3 separate regions of the Homo sapiens genome follow, and regions 2 and 3 are each linked to region 1. The links come from fine-mapping of genetic effects on gene expression. A gene starts in region 1. Each other region holds a variant in brackets. All regions are shown on one strand. Distances are from middle to middle. Region 1 holds the start of CASC8 (cancer susceptibility 8). Region 2 overlaps CASC8 (cancer susceptibility 8). Region 3 overlaps CASC8 (cancer susceptibility 8).

Region 1 (5,536 bases):
TATCTCTCTTTCCCATCTCCCAGGCAGGTCAGTTAACCCTTTTGGGCTGTGTTCAATCAGGGTTAGTGCGTAATAAAGATCCTCTGCATTTAGAATTACCTTTTTTTAACCTCTAAACCCTCTTCAAGAGGCTGCAAACTCTTCAAAGACAGAAGCTGCTGTACGGATTTTTCACCTGCTTCAGTGCCTAGAGAGGAACAAGGGAGAGAAGGGGAGAGAAAAAGGAGGAAGGAAGAAACAGGAGCAAGGGATATCTACTTGGTACTTTACAAGGTAGTGTTAATGAAATACACTTAAATCAAGAGTTCTGGGTTCAAGTTCCAGTCCTGACGGTGCCTATACATCCTTGGGTCATCACTCAGACTCTCAGAGCCTCAATTTCTTACTCTGAGAAATGGAAATAATAATGCCTACTTCACCAGATCATTAGGAGAATTAAATAAGGTAATGTATTGGGTAACATTTTGTAATTGTGTGCTACTGTGTAAGTTAAAATTGTATGAAGGTTTAATAAAAGGAATTGTTCTTTAAGACTTCAAGGACTTTCTGTCAGAAGTTGAAACTAGAGGATTTACCAGGATGTTTCTGGCTCTATAGGGGTCATGTCCCTTTCCAAGATGCCTCAGTTGACCAGTAAACACATTCTTTTCAAGGCTTAATATTAAAATAGTATCAAATTCTGATCTAATCTGGATCAGAAGAGAAAATACTCCAACCTACCATTGTCAACCGCAACACTGGTTGTGTTTAATGGTGATGGAATTCTGTCACTTCCACCAACACTTTTTGAGCATTCGCTGCATGCGGGGCATTCTGGTGTATACTGATAAGAAACAACAACCAAAGATAATTAAGATTGACCTCACCCTCCGAGATGTTTACAGTTTACTTTGCTTCCCTAAGCTTCAGTTTTTCCCTCTGCCAAAACAGAAGCTCGGAAGAGATGTCTCCAAGACACTTTCTACCATGACCTTTTGAATTTCATAACTCTCTAATTCCAGAATTCAAAGAGTGACTGTTTTACCTCCCACTGAATGATTCCTCTGAGAAAAAAGCTCTCTGCTAGCTAAGCTAGCCAAGACACCATACCTGAAGATAATACCTAAACTTCTGTTTGTGTCCCAGGAATCCCAAATTGATGTCACACCAAAACAATGTCATTTATACAATTCATTATATGTCACTCATTAATACATTTGCTTAGTTGATTTTCATTAAAATCCTGCAGGGAGCATTATTACACTCATTTTTCAAAAGAGATAACTGAGTCGTAAAAGGATTAAATTATTTGCCCAGGTCACACGGAAAGAAATTAACGTGGCCACGGCATAAAACCAGATTTTCTGTTTTTAAACATATTTTTTTCGCTGACCTCCACCCTGTAAGAGCTTTTATTACCAAGCGATTGAGAAGCACAGGCTCAGGGACACTGAATTTGACCAAAGAAGCCAATAGAACTATTCCAAAAACCTATGGTTCCCCCTAAAGCATTAGAAAGACTCAGAACGGGTTAAGTGCTCCCTGGCTCATTCCCAACAGACACTACATTCACCTGTGCTTGCTCTGAAATAAATCAGTGTCCCTTTCTGCTGCTGCTGTTGTCTGGAAATAATGCAAATGCAATGGGCCTTTACTGACATTGTGCTTCCCTGGAAGGATACACATAATAAATTATCCCTTAATACTGTTAAAGAGACATTTTCCTCTTACTCAGGAGCTTTTGGGGTTGGACTGGGCTACTCACCCAGCAAGGAGGAGGACATGTGTCTTGTCACTGGCCCGGTTATTCATGTGGCCTCTCATTGCTCCTTGGCTCACTGCATTGCAAGATTCAAGGATGCACTTCCAGGCCTCCACATCAAGTCATAGGACTTGCCGGTAACCTAGATTGGTTTTCTCATTTGTAATTTGAATTTATTTTATGTTATGCATTTGTATGTTTATTTATTCGGATGCTCAGAAGCTGAAGATAACTAGTGCTCCTGGTCCATGCCATTCATCAATTGGAAGAATGCCAAGCTGTTTCCGCTGAGGACAGAAGGCATTGGTCTCCCCTGCAGGAAGCCACTGCTGCTCCTTAATTGTTTGCTAGAGGAAGAATCAAGGGTAAAATTTAAAGTAAATGGCTGGCCGAGTTGCACTAATTCATCAAAGCATGTTTCAAGTCAGTAGTCAGAGCATGCATCAGCCCCCGGCGCCACCAGCTTCTACGAGAGTGGAAAAGCCAGCAGACCTCCGAGCAGATGAAATCATTAGGAGGCATTCAGCAGGGCTTGAAAAGCAAAGAGAGAGGAGGCGGGGATTTCTCTGCATGCTCCCTTTGCCACATGGGAAACACCAGCTGTCTGTGACCTAGTTATCCAAGAAAGGAAACACGGAAGAGAACCCACAAAACTGTTTGCTACATGAGAACCCCATTCTCCAAAGACATGCTGGATGTTGAGAAAACAATTAGCATCTTCTAGTTTGACTCTATTTTTTTTTTTTTTTGCTTAGAGATTTTTGGTAGCAATAAAGACAAGCCCTATTACAGTAGCCTAAGAAAATGGAATTTTTAGGGATAGCCCATGGATAGGAAGTAAAAATCTTGGTTCATGAAAGATGGGAAGTAGGAACTGGAATGTTTTTGGAAAATCTATCAGCATCTCACCTCTTTCTCTTGCTCTCTCTCTCTCATTACATGGCCCTTTATTTGTGCAACAATTCATTTTCCTACTTCTCTATGAAGGTCTCTCTTCTTGCTTTTAAGCATGAAGCCACTCATTCATTCAGTAAATATGTATTTAATGCTAACAGGTGCTGGCACTGCCCAAGATGCCAGGGCTACAGCAATCAACAAAACAGACAAAATCCCTGCCCTCGTGAAATGTACACTGTGGTGAGGCAGGTGAGGCAGGCAGAAACTGAACAAGATAAATAAGTAAAAGATACAGTGTGCAAGAGGGCAGTGAGTGCTTGGAAGAAAAGATCAAGGGAGGAGAAGTGAAATACTGGCAAAGTAGTTGAAATCTTAAATAAAATGGTCATGGGAGACCCCACTGAGAAAGTCATTTCTGAGTGAAACCTGAAGGAAGTAAGAAGTTAGCATTGCAATTGTCTGGGGCAGAGCATGCTGAGGAGAGGGAATAGCAGGTGCAAAGGGCCTGGGGTGGTTCAAGGAGCTAGCAGAGAGGCCATTGAGGAAGGAGGTTAAGCAAGTGAGGGGGATTAGTTAGAGGTGAAGTCATAGACCTGGGGGCACAGATCACAAAGCGTTTTCTAGGTCATAGTGAGGACTTTGGCTTTTACTCTGAGTGAGATCAGAAGATCCCAAAAGGCCACCACAAGATGATATTCACGTGGTCCACCTAATCCAGTAGTCAGTCCTTATTGCTAACTTGCACACAGTCAAGCTCCCTTAGTCTCCAAAAGAGGAGATCCAAGCAACGATACTTCATGAGCAGTCGGCTTCGAGAGTCATCCTGAGTTTTCAAGGCTGACACAAATATCAGTCTAACTACGCAGTCCACCTGTGTAAATATTTGGGGAATAGTGGATGGTTAAGGAAGAGACCTAGTATGAGATAAAGTGTCCAGGCCCTGCACACATTTGGGTCTCACAGAATTAACTGGCAAATGCTAGTAAGAGTATCAGGACCTTAGGAAATAGAGATTCCTTTAGAAAACTCTAATTCCCAGAAAGATTTTCACATAAGACCTTCACACAAAGACAAAATTAGAATGTGTGTTCTCTCACCATCTCCTTATCCAGAGAGTCCTTAGATGTGGCAGAAGGACCCACAAGAGTTGTCAGAGGCAGTTGTGAGGGGTTGCCAGTCATGTTAGTATTAATAGATATCATGAGAAGTTAGACACGTTTTTGAATAAATTAGAATGAATTAAATATTAACCCAAAATGTCATTATGCTCACTCCCTACCCTCCCACTATGCTTTCCTGACAGAGAAAGAAAGGGTGGCACTGTGGCTGGAATACAGAGCCCACAGGACTTCAGCATGTCCTACACATAAACCTCCTCCTTTTTGTGACCCTTGGTGGAAAAAGTATGAGAGCCACGTATCTTAGAAATAACTGCCTTTCCTCCCTAGATGCCTGCCACAAAAACAGACATGTTCTAGAACTTTCTTCTCCCTAGTTCCAAGAACACTGAACTCATGGTAATGGCCAAACAATGATCTTTTTCTAAGGACAATGTCAGAATGCTTTACTGTGCCATTTTCATAATCAGACACAAGAAAGTTACCATCTGTAGTTCAGCCATAGCACTTCACATGAAAGAGGAAATGACTAAATATATATTTACATAGCTCTCATGAATATGCATTTTGTAAATGCACAAATATGTACAATTACTTGATAGACTGTTTTGGTTCCTATCTTTCGAATATTTAATACAACTGTAAATGTTTAATTCATATTTACTGAGTTGATTGAACAGTTTCTAAATTATCCCAAGCCTTGCTGGAAACAAGATTGAATGTTTCCAGCATATTTGCACACTAGGATTTGGCCAGGAGAATCCACACTAACTGGTTAAATGATGATTTTCTTAGAAAGCATATTGAATAAGCTGCTGGTGAAATCATCTTGCTGACCACAACATAGAGGGACAGCACCAGATCTAATTCCAACCATGACCTGCAGAGCCTCTCATGACTAGGCCCCCCTGATGCCTCTTTGCACCTCTGTCTGCACTGCCCCTCATTGCTAAGCCACAATCAACCCATGTTCCACTTTCAGTCCTCTGCACCAGCTGCTCCATGTGTCCAGAATGCTCTTCACATAGACATCAAGCCTTTGCTCTAATGTCACCTTTTCAATGAGGTCTATCTTAACCTCTGCATTTGAAATTGCAATCCCATCATCCCCCAGAACTCCTGATATCCCCTACACTCCCTTATACTTTTTTGTCTATAGCAACCACCCCTCACCACTTTATAACATTTATGCTTTGTAGTCTGTCTGTGTCCACTCACTAGAATTCAAATATCACAAAAGCAGGAGTCCACTTTTTTTTTCATTGAAAAACTCCAAATCCTAGAAGGAAGCTGGCATTTAATATGTGCTCAATAGACATTAGAGGAAGAAAAGAAGGAAGGAAGGAAAGAAGGGAGGGAGGGAGGGAGGGAGGGAGGAAGGAAGGAAGGAATGAAGGAAGGAAGGAAGGAAGAAAGGAAGGAAAGAAAGAAAGTCAAGAGACCTGGGCTCAAATCCAGCATGGGAATAAGTAGGGAGGAAAGAAGGGAAGTCAAGAGACCTGGGATCAAATCCAGCTTGGGCATGAGGCAAGACCAGAGCAGAGGAGATTGTCCTTGAGCTCAGGTGACGCCCATCTGGCCAACTCTCCACAAAGCTGGGTCACACTGTTTAGAGGACAGTTCTTGGCAGTAGTAGTAGTGCTGGTGGGGAGGGCTTTGTCATTATATTGTGTGCGTGTGGTGTGGGACTCTTCCTTAGTTCAGCTAAAGACAAGCTCCCTGTCACAAGGCCATGAAAGATTAGGCTCGCAGACAATTTGAAGGGTGAGAATAATGGGAT
Region 2 (5,536 bases), 23 kb before region 1:
TTTTGTTCAGAGAGTATTCCTTAATGCTCACAGAAAATCTAGCCCAGCTTCTCCTATTACAAAACTGGAAGCTGAGGACTAGAAAGATGAAGTGGCTTGCAGCTTCCCCATCAGTATGACAAGGAAACTGTATTAAATAATTCCCAAGGATTCTTCTAGCTCTCACATGCTTTCAGGTTTTCAATAAACACAAGATACAATAAAAAGCAATCAAAATAATGACCAGCTGATTTTGCTTTCCTTCATTACCCTCATCTAAGCCACCAGCAAACTCTGCTAACTCTTCCTCCAAAATAGATCCCACTCTGTCACTCCTTTTTTTTTTTTTTTTTTTTTTTTTTTTGAGACGGAGTCTTGCTCTGTCACCTAGGCTGGAGTGGAGTGGCGCGATCTCGGCTCACTGCAAGCTCCGCCTCCCGGGTTCACGCCATTCTCCTGCCTCGGCCTCCCGAGTAGCTAGGACTACAGGCACCCACCACCACGCCCAGCTTTTTTTGTATTTTTAGTAGAGATGGGGTTTCACCGTATTAGCCACGATGGTTTTGATCTCCTGACCTCCTGATCCACCCGCCTTGGCCTCCCAAAGTGCTGGGATTACAGGCTTGAGCCACTGCGCCCGGCCACTGTCACTCTCTTTTTATGGTCACCACCATGAGACAAACCACCACCACCTTGAAATGAACAGCCAGAGCAGCCTCTAACTGGCTTCTTTCCCCTCCTTACCCTGGCCCTCCTACTTGCTATATGCATGTGACAGTCTGAACGATCTGTTGAGAATTTGAACCAAATGTATTTACTTCTTTTCCCAAAACCTACCAGTAACTTTCTATCATGTCTTACCTTGGCCAATCAGGCCTTACATGATCTGGCCCCCATTTTTCTCTTTGACCAGATCTTGCACCACTATCCCCTTATCTACAAGCCTCTCTGACCTTCTGCCTGTGCCTTTGATATTCCAGGCTTCCCCTCTCTTTGGCATTCAGGCTCCTAAGAGGGCCACCCCACCCACAGTGATTCCCACCTCTCCATATTCACATCCTTTGTGTAGGCTGGACCTAGTGCTTTGCCTTTAAAGAACAGAATATGGCAAAGGTGATGGGATGTCACATCCACGATTAGGTTGCAAAAGACTGTAACTTCCATCTTATTGGCTCTCTCTCTCTCTCTCTCTCTCTCCTTCTCACTTTCTCACTCAGATGAAGCAAGTTTCCATGTTGTGAGCTGCCCTGTGAGAAGGTTTACTTGCTAGGAACTAAGAGTGGCCTCCAGCCAACAGCCAGCAAGGAAGTGAAGCCCTCAGTCTAACAGCTTGGGAGAAACTGAATTGTGCCATCAATCATGTGAGTGAGCTTGGAAGCTCTTCTATCCCCAGTCCAACCATAACAGGACTACATCCCTGGCCAACACTTTAATGACAGCTTGTGAGAGACCCTGAGACAGAAGACTCAGCTAAGCCAGGCCCAGATTCCTGACCCATAGAAACTGTGAGATAAAAAATATTGCTTTAAACCATGCAATTTTGGAGTAACATATTATACAACAATAGACAACTAAAACACCCTCTCGGAACATTTTCTCTTCTTTTTCTCTCAGCCAGAAATTCTATTTCTACTCAGGTCTTCCAATGGTTGGCTCTATCATGCAGCCTCTCAGCCCAGATGTCCCCTTCTCAGGCCTTATTCCCTAGCTAACTCTACACTCAGCCCATTACTCTGTTTCATTATGTTTATCCACTTTTAACTGCTGGAAAGATTTTATTTATTTACTGATTTACCTGTCTTCTCTATCGTAATAAAAGCTCCTCAAGAAGAGGAACCTTCTCAGATATGTTCATGGCGGAATCTCAGCTCCTAAAATAGAGCCTGGAACAAAGCCCCCTTCAATAATTACATGTTGAATAAATAAATGAAGAAATTATGAATGAAAAGGAGTTGGGGGTGGGGGAGGAATGGAGATGCTCTTCCACATGATTTTTTTAAAGCTCTAGGACATTGGACCAGCATTTGCTCTCCTGATTTATCCCATTTGTCTGCTTGAGTACATTTAAATTTTGAAGGACCCCAGGTTGTTTGTTTCTTTCAAAGATTACCCCCTAACTTCAATTTTCCTGCTTGAGTTTTTTGCAGATCTCAGCTGAATTTCAGGGTGGCAAAAACCCACATCCTCTTCCGCTGGCTCC[A/C]CCTTTCTCTTCTCCTCTTCTGCAACCCACCGACTAGTTTCAACACATCTTTCCTTCTAAGTGAAGAGCATTTAAAAGATTGTAAAGCTTATTGAACTCTTACAACACCATATCTTTATTTGTTAAGTACCAATGACTCAAAAATAGAGTAGTCTCTCCTGAAATTCATGTGGTTTTACAAATTACGGAGGAAGTTCTAGGCTCAGTGTGGATTGCCAAGTGGTGAAAATTTGTTATGTATCTTTTGCAAGGCTCCGTTTTCTTCCTTTCTACTGTCATTTTGTCTGTAGCTTGAAGGAATAGAGTGACTTATATCCCCATATTGTCACAGAGAATAGAGAATAAAAGATCATCCCATTTTTAAGGGCCCCTCCACCGAAAAATACCAGAGGATTTTGTGTTTGCTTCATTCTTAAATGCGGCCCATAAATGAGAACATTCATCCAAATGTCCAAATAATATTTGAAAAGGGGTTTCATTGAGAATTTCATTAGTAATTGGGGATGAAAAATAAAAACACTATTACACATTCCAAAAATTGACTTAGACGTGAAAGATTAGAAATTCCAAGTATGGGCCAGAATGTGGAACAATGAAAACTGTCATACTTCTGGTCAAAGTGTAAACTGGCACAAGTATTTTAGAAAACTATTTGGTATTATCTACTGAAATTTAATATAATACTATGACCCAGCAGTTCTAGGTATATATCCTCAGAAATGTGTGCACATGTGGACCAAAAGACATGTACAGAAAAGTTTATAGCAGTATTAGTTATGATAGCCCCAATCCAGTAACAACAATAGTTCTAGTTCAACAATAGTAGATGGATAAACAAGTTTTGGTATATTTGTACAATGGAATGCTACATAATAATGAAAACAAACTACTACTATATATAACAGTATGGATGAATCTCAAAGATATAATGTAGAACAAAAGAAACTAGACACTTGAAAATGCCTAAGTTATGATTTGATTTATATGGAATCCAAAAAAAAAAAAAAAGACAAGCAAACTTGGCTACCTTTGGGGAGAGGGGAGGGGCTGGATATGGGGTGATATAGGCGCTCCCAGAGTGGTAGCAATGTTCTGTTTCTTTGACCTGGGTTGTGGTCAGTTTGTCATAATTTAGTGACTTGTTCACTTAAGATTTGTTCACTTTTCTGCGTATTTGCTATAGTTCAAGTAAACAGTTTAAAAATTCAAAAAAATAAAAATAAATAAAAACAAATAAATGAAGACATACATCAGTTCAATACCAAAACATCAGTAACATGTCTGGCCAAAGGCAAGGCCTATCAAAATGGGTAACAAAGCAAAATCTTCCCTCTGCCGTTTTCAAGATACATGCCTATAACAAAATGCACAAAATATAGTCAAAGATATTCATCATACAATATTCATATTAGCACAAAATTCATTTAGATCTAAATGTCCAATAAAAGAGGATAGTGAAAGTACTTTACAGTGTATTTCTACAACAGAGTATGATATAGCCAGTAAAACTCGTGTTCTCAAAGACTTAAGTAAAATGCTCCTGGTATCTCGGTAAATGAGATTCATTCAAAGTGAAACATATAACCTCAGCCCTGTTTGTATGTGCTTACACCTTCTAAAGTAATTTTTGTCTTCAGTTGCTCTGTTTTCCTTTCTCCCTTCTGTGTAGCTTCTGTCCTCCCATCCTTTTCATTGTCCTCCAAAAGAAATCTCATTCTCAGCAGCCATGATTTCACGAGACAAGATTAGGAGAATGGGTAGAGAAAGACTGGAATGCAAAGGTAGTAAAACTTTAGATAAAATTCTTTCTTATTGGGTGTGGTTTCAGGTTCTCCTCTATTATGGAAATTCTAGATAATGAGCAAAGAAGAAAGCAAATTTAAAAGGAGACCAGATACTTATGGACATAAAGATGGCAGCAATAGAAACTGGGGACTACTAGATGGGGGATGGAGGGAGCTAGAGGGGAAAGAGTTGAAAAACTATTGAGTACTATGCTCAGTACCTGGATGGTGGAATTAGCTGCACCCCAAATCTCAGCATCATGCAATATACCCAAGTTACAAACCTTCACATGTACCTCCTGAATCTAAAATAAAATTTGAGGAAAAAAAGAAGGCCAGAGAAACTCTTCCTTACTATATTTAAAAGAAGCTTAAAATAGGGTAAGAAAGGGTTATGGGAGACTTATAAAGAGGTGAGGATAATTTGGGGTAGGTTGGAGAATCCAGAAGCTATCATATAGATTTTGGGTATGGAAAGGTAGGAGAGTAATAGAAACAAAGGTTTAGGAAGTTTTACCATGGGTTATGAATTACATTCCACTTAACATTATTTGAAGACCAAAGGTAAAGCCTGTATTTGTCCTAATAATTATCTATGGCTAATTGAGTAGCGATTTTCTGAGTATCCATGAACACATGAAGTCCTAGATTATATTAAGAGCATAAAGTAAGACATTGAGGTCATCAGAAAAGCTTGTCATGAAAAAATCCAGCACTGTTTATTTCTCTACAGTGGAACTAGAATTAATTTATATTTTGTTCTTTATATTTTTCTCAATTTTTTCCAAGCTTTCTTATATAAGAAAGTGCATGACTTATATAGCCAGAAAAATGCATATATAATATATATTATTCAGAAAAAAGTTCCAAAAAACTTACTATTGTCTGTCCCTTCAATTGCTGCTGGAAGAATGTTTGATAGCGAAGCAGAAAAAGAAAGCATGGAGAAAGGGCTCTCTCAGTATATGGGGTGGGGATGGGAGAGGAACAGCCGTGGAACCCCTCCCACCATGGCCTTGGCCTTGTTCACAGGAGAGCAGTTTGCCCTAAGTAGTTTTGTAGAAGGCATTAAAAAAATTGCATCAGGCTGGGCACAGTGGCTCACGCCTGTAATCCTAGCACTTTGGGAGGCCGAGGCAGGTGGATCACGAAGTGAGGAGTTTGAGACCAGCCTGGCCAAGATGGTGAAACCTTGTCTCTACTAAAAATACAAAAGTTAGCCAGGCACGGTGGTGGGCGCCTGTAATCCCAGCTACTTAGGAGGCTGAGGTGGGAGAATCGCTTGAATCTGAGAGGCAGAGGTTGCAGTGAGCTGAGATCATGCCACTGCACTCTAGCTTGGGCAACAGAGCAAGACTCAGTCTCAAAATAATAATAATTATTATAATAATAATAATTGCATCAATAAAACAGCAACTTGCCATAGAAATAGTTATGACAGTCTGTTTTATATATAATCAAAAGATCTGTACACAGAATTTGATGTGAATGATGTATCCACAGAGAGCCAGTAATTTAAGTGCACCCAGAGATGACTGCCTGCCCTGATTATACTCCTGCAGATGCTGCCAGG
Region 3 (5,536 bases), 47 kb before region 1:
GAAATAAACAGCCATGTTGCTCACACAAAGCCTGTTTGGTGGTCTCTTCACACGGACGCGCATGAAATTTGGTGCTGTGGCTCGGCTCGGGGGACCTCCTTTGGGAGATCAATCCCCTGTCCTCCTGTTCTTTGCTCCATGAGAAACATCCACCTACGACCTCAGGTCCTCAGACCAACCAGCCCAAGAAACATCTCACCAATTTCAAATCCGGTAAGCAGCCTCTTTTTACTCTCTTCTCCAACCTCCCTCACTATCCCTCAACCTCTTTCTCCTTTCAATCTTGGTGCCACACTTCAATGTCTCCCTTAATTTCAATTCCTTTCATTTTCTGGTAGCGACAAAGGAGACACGTTTTATCCGTGGACCCAAAACTCCGGCTCCGGTCACGGACTGGGAAGGCAGCCTTCCCTTGGTGTTTAATCCTTGCAGGGACGCCTCTCTGATTATACACTCACGTTTCAAGGGTGTCAGACCACACGCAGGGACGCCTGCCTTGGTCCTTCACCCTTAGCGGCAAGTCCCGCTTTTCTGGGGAAGGGGCAAGTACCCCAACCCCTTCTCTGCTTTTCTGGGGCAGGGGCAAGTACCCCTCAACCCCTTCTCCTTCACCCTTAGCGGCAAGTCCTGCTTTCCTGGGGGGCAAGAACCCCCCAGTTGCTTATTTCCGCACCCCGACCTCTTATCTCTGTGTCCCAATCCCTTATTTCCATGCCCCAACCTCGTATCTCTGCACCCCAATCCCTTATTTCCGTGCCCCAACCTCTTATATCTCTGTGCCCCAATCCCTTATTTCCACACCCCAACCTCTTATCTCTGCACCCCACCCCTTTTCTGGAAGGTAAGAACCCCCGAACCCCTTCCCTCCATTTCTCTACTCTCTCTTTTCTCTAGGCTTGCTTCCTTCAGTATAGGCAACCTTCCACCCTCCATTCCTCCTTCTACTCCCTTGGCCTGTGTTCTCAAAAACTTAAAACCTCTTCAACTCACACCTGACCTAAAACCTAAATGCCTTATTTTCTTCTGCAATGCCACTTGACCCCAATACAAACTCGACAGTAGTTCCAAATAGCCAGAAAATGGCACTTTGAATTTTTCCATCCTGCAAGATCTAAATAATTCTTGTTGTAAAATAGGCAAACAGTCCGAGGCGCCTGACGTCCAGGCATTCTTTTACACATCAGTCCCTTCCTAGTCTCTGTGCCCAGTACAACTCGTCCCAAATCTTCCTTCTTTCCCTCCCGCCTGTCCCCTCAGTCCCAACCCCAAGCATCGCTGAGTCTTTCTAATCTTCCTTTTCTACAGACCCATCTGACCTCTCACCTCCTCGCCAGGCCGAGCTAGGTCCCAATTCTTCCTCAGCCTCCGCTCCTCCACCCTATAATCTTTTTATCGCCTCCGCTCCTCACACCTGGTCCGGCTTACAGTTTCTTTCCGTGACTAGCCCTCCCTCACCTGCCCAGCAATTTACTCTTAGAAAGGTGGCTGGAGCTAAAGGCATAGTCAAGGTTAATGCTCCTTTTTCTTTATCCCAAATCAGATAGCGTTTAGGCTCTTTTTCATCAAATATAAAAATCCAGCCCAGTTCATGACTTGTTTAGCAGCAATACTGAGATACTTTACAGCCCTAGACCCTAAAAGGTCAAAAGGCCGTCTTATTCTCAAAATGCACTTTATTACCCATTCTGCTCCCGACATTAAATAAAACTCCAAAAATTAAATTCCGGCCCTCAAACCCCATGACAGGATTTAATTAACCTCGCCTTCAAGGTGTACAATAATAGAAAAAAGTTGCAATTACTTGCCTCCACTGTGAGACAAACCCCAGCCACATCTGCAGCACACAAGAACTTCCAAACGCCTGAACCGCAGCGGCCAGGCGTTCCTCCAGAACCTCCTCCCCCAGGAGCTTGCTACATGTGCCGGAAATCTGGCCACTGGGCCAAGGAATGCCCGCAGCCTGGGATTCCTCCTAAGCCGTGTCCCATCTGTGTGGGACCCCACTGAAAATTGGACTGTTCAACTCACCTGGCAGCCACTCCCAGAGCCCCTAGAACGCTGGTCCAAGGCTCTCTGACTGACTCCTTCCCAGATCTTCTCGGCTTAGCAGCTGAAGACTGACACTGCCTGATTGCCTCGGAAGCCCCCTAGACCATCACGGACGCCAAGCTTTGGGTTACTCTCACAGTGGAAGGTAAGCCCGTCCCCTTCTTAATCAATATGGAGGCTACCCACTCCACATTACCTTCTTTTCAAGGGCCTGTTTCCCTTGCCTCCATAACTGTTGTGGGTATTGACGGCCAGGCTTCTAAACCTCTTAAAACTCCCCAACTCTGGTGCCAACTTAGACAATACTCTTTTAAGCACTCCTTTTTAGTTATCCCCACCTGCCCAGTTCCCTTATTAGGCTGAGACACTTTAACTAAATTATCTGCTTCCCTGACTATTCCTGGACTACAGCTATATCTCATTGCCGCCCTTCTTCCCAATCCAAAGCCTCCTTGCGTCCTCCTCTTGTATCCCCCGACCCTAACCCACAAGTATAAGATACCTCTACTCCCTCCTTGGTGACCCCTTACCATCTCATTAAAACCTAATCACCCTTACCCCACTCAACGCCAATATCCCATCCCGCAGCACGCTTTAAAAAGATTAAAGCCTGTTATCACTCACCTGCTACAGCATGGCCTTTTAAAACCTATAAACTCTCCTTACAATTCCCCCATTTTACCTGTCCTAAAACCAGACAAGCCTTACAAGTTAGTTCAGGATCTGCGCCTTATCAACCAAATTGTTTTGCCTATCCCCCCTGTGGTGCCCAACCCGTACCCTCTTTTGTCCTCAATACCTTCCTCCACAACTCACTATTCCGTGCTTGATCTTAAAGATGCTTTTTTCACTATTCCCCTGCACCCCTCGTCCCAGCCTCTCTTTGCTTTCACTTAGACTGACCCTGAGACCCATTAGGCTCAGCAAATTACCTAGGCTGTACTGCTGCAAGACTTCACAGACAGCCCCCATTACTTCAGTCAAGCCCAAATTTTATCCTCATCTGTTACCTATCTCGGCATAATTCTCATAAAAACACATGTGCTCTCCCTGCCAATCGTGTCCGACTGATCTCTCAAACCCAAGCACCTTCTACAAAACAACAACTCCTTTCCTTCCTAGGCATGGTTAACGTGGTCAGAATTCTTACACAACAACCAGGACCACACC[G/C]TATAGCCTTTCTGTCCAAACAACTTGACCTTACTGTTTTAGCCTAGCCCTCATATCTTCATGCAGCGGCTGCCGCTGCTTTAATACTTTTAGAGGCCCTCAAAATCACAAACTATGCTCAACTCACTCTCTACAGTTCTCATAACTTCCAAAATCTATTTTCTTCCTCATACCTGACGCATATACTTTCTGCTTCCCGGCTCCTTCAGCTGTACTCACTCTTTGTTGAGTCTCCCACAATTACCGTTGTTCCTGGCCCAGACTTCAGTCCGGCCTCCCACATTATTCCTGATACCACACCTGACCCCCATGACAGTATCTCTCTGATCCACCTGACATTCACCCCATTTCCCCAAATTTCCTTCTTTCCTGTTCCTCACCCTGATCACGCTTGATTTATTGATGGCGGTTCCACCAGGCCTAATCGCCACACACCAGCAAAGGCAGGCTATGCTATAGTACAAGCCACTAGCCTGCCTCTTAGAACCTCTCATTTCCTTTCCATCGTGGAAATCTATCCTCAAGGAAATAACTTCTCAGTGTTCCATCTGCTATTCTACTACTCCTTAGGGATTATTCAGGCCCCCTCCCTTCCCTACACATCAAGCTCGAGGATTTGCCCCACCCAGGACTGGCAAATTAGCTTTACTCAACATGCCCTGAGTCAGATAACTAAAATACCTCTTAGTCTAGGTAGATACTTTCACTGGATAGGTAAAGTCCTTTCCTACAGGGTCTGAGAAGGCCACCGCAGTCATTTCTTCCGTTCTGTCAGACATAATTCCTCGGTTAAGCCTTCCCACCTCAATACAGTGTGATAACAGATGAGCCTTTATTAGTCAAATCAGCCAAGCAGTTTTTCAGGCTCTTAGTATTCAGTGAAACCTTTATATCTCTTACGGTCCTCCGTCTTCAAGAAAAGTAGAATGGACTAAAGGTCTTTTAAAAACACACCTCACCAAGCTCAGCCACCAAAAAGGACTGGACAATACTTTTACCACTTTCCCTTCTCAGAATTCTGGCCTGTCCTCGGAATGCTACAGGGTACAGCCCATTTAAGCTCCTGTATAGACGCTCCTTTTTATTAGGCCCCAGTCTCATTCCAGACACCAGACCAACTTAGACTGTGCCCCCAAAAAAACTTGTCATCCCTACTATCTTCTGTCTAGTCATACTCCTATTCACTGTTCTCAACTACTCATACATGCCCTGCTCTTGTTTACACTGCCGGTTTACACTGTTTTTCCAAGCCATCACAGCTGATATCTCCTGGTGCTATCCCCAAACTGCCACTCTTAACTCTTGAAGTAAATAAATAATCTTTGCTGGCAGGACTATGCTGAATCTCCTTAGGCACTCTCTAATCGGATATCCTGAGTTGTCCCAATTCTTAGACCTTTTATACCTGTTTTTCTCCTTCTGTTATTCCATTTAGTTTCTCAATTCATCCAAAACCGTATTCAGGCCATCACCAATCATTCTATACGACAAACGTTTCTTCTAACATCCCCACAATATCACCCCTTACCACAAGACCTCCCTTCAGCTTAGTCTCTCCCACTCTAGGTTCCCACGCTGCCCCTAATCCTGCTTGAAGCAGCCCTGAGAAACATCGCCCATTCTCTGTCCATATCACCCCCCAAAAATTTTAGCCACCCCAACACTTCAACACCATTTTGTTTTATTTTTCTTATTAATATAAGAAGGCAGGAATGTCAGGCCTCTGAGCCCAAGCCAAGCCATCCCATCCCCTGTGACTTGCACATATACGCCCAGATGGCCTGAAGTAACTGAAGAATCACGAAAGAAGTGAATATGCCCTGCCCCACCTTAACTGATGACATTCCACCACAAAAGAAGTGAAAATGGCCGGTCCTTGCCTTAAGTGATGACATTACCTTGTGAAAGTCCTTTTCCTGGCTCATCCTGGCTCAAAAACCACCCCCACTGAGCACCTTGTGACCCCCACTCCTGCCCGCCAGAGAACAAACCCCCTTTGACTGTAATTTTCTTTACCTACCCAAATCCTATAAAACGGCCCCAACCTTATCTCCCTTCGCTGACTCTCTTTTCGGACTCAGCCTGCCTGCACCCAGGTGAAATAAACAGCCATGTTGCTCACACAAAGCCTGTTTGGTGGTCTCTTCACACAGACATGCGTGAAAAATTTCAAATAATATTTTATTTTTGCCTTAATTTTGATGTTTGCCCAGGAGTTATTCAGGAGTAAATTGTTTAATTTTAAAGTATTTGTATAGTTTTAAGAGCTCTTCCTGATATTGATTACTATTATTATTGCACTGTGATCCCAGAGTGT

Evidence for each region. PIP is the estimated chance that this variant, and not a neighbour inherited with it, causes the effect.
Region 2: its variant is fine-mapped to the expression of CASC8 in whole blood (TOPMed, PIP 0.95).
Region 3: its variant is fine-mapped to the expression of CASC8 in blood mononuclear cells (TOPMed, PIP above 0.99). The same link has a PIP of 0.9 or more in T cells, monocytes and whole blood.

The regions. Positions count from the first base shown.
Region 1 is chr8:127,478,984-127,484,519 of GRCh38, forward strand. It overlaps CASC8 (cancer susceptibility 8), which reads right to left and starts at 3,156. Exons shown (of 6, transcript NR_117100.1): 1 at 2,651-3,156; 2 at 1,745-2,088; 3 at 721-823; 4 at 100-187.
Region 2 is chr8:127,456,184-127,461,719 of GRCh38, forward strand. All of the region lies in intron 4 of CASC8 (cancer susceptibility 8), which reads right to left. Among named protein-coding and RNA genes, the nearest start is that of CASC8, 23 kb to the right of the region's middle. The variant A/C (reference allele first, on the strand shown) is at 2,180.
Region 3 is chr8:127,432,083-127,437,618 of GRCh38, forward strand. The region is part of intron 4 of CASC8 (cancer susceptibility 8); the gene reads right to left. Among named protein-coding and RNA genes, the nearest start is that of POU5F1B, 19 kb to the left of the region's middle. RefSeq lists an enhancer at 134-1,048. The variant G/C (reference allele first, on the strand shown) is at 3,220.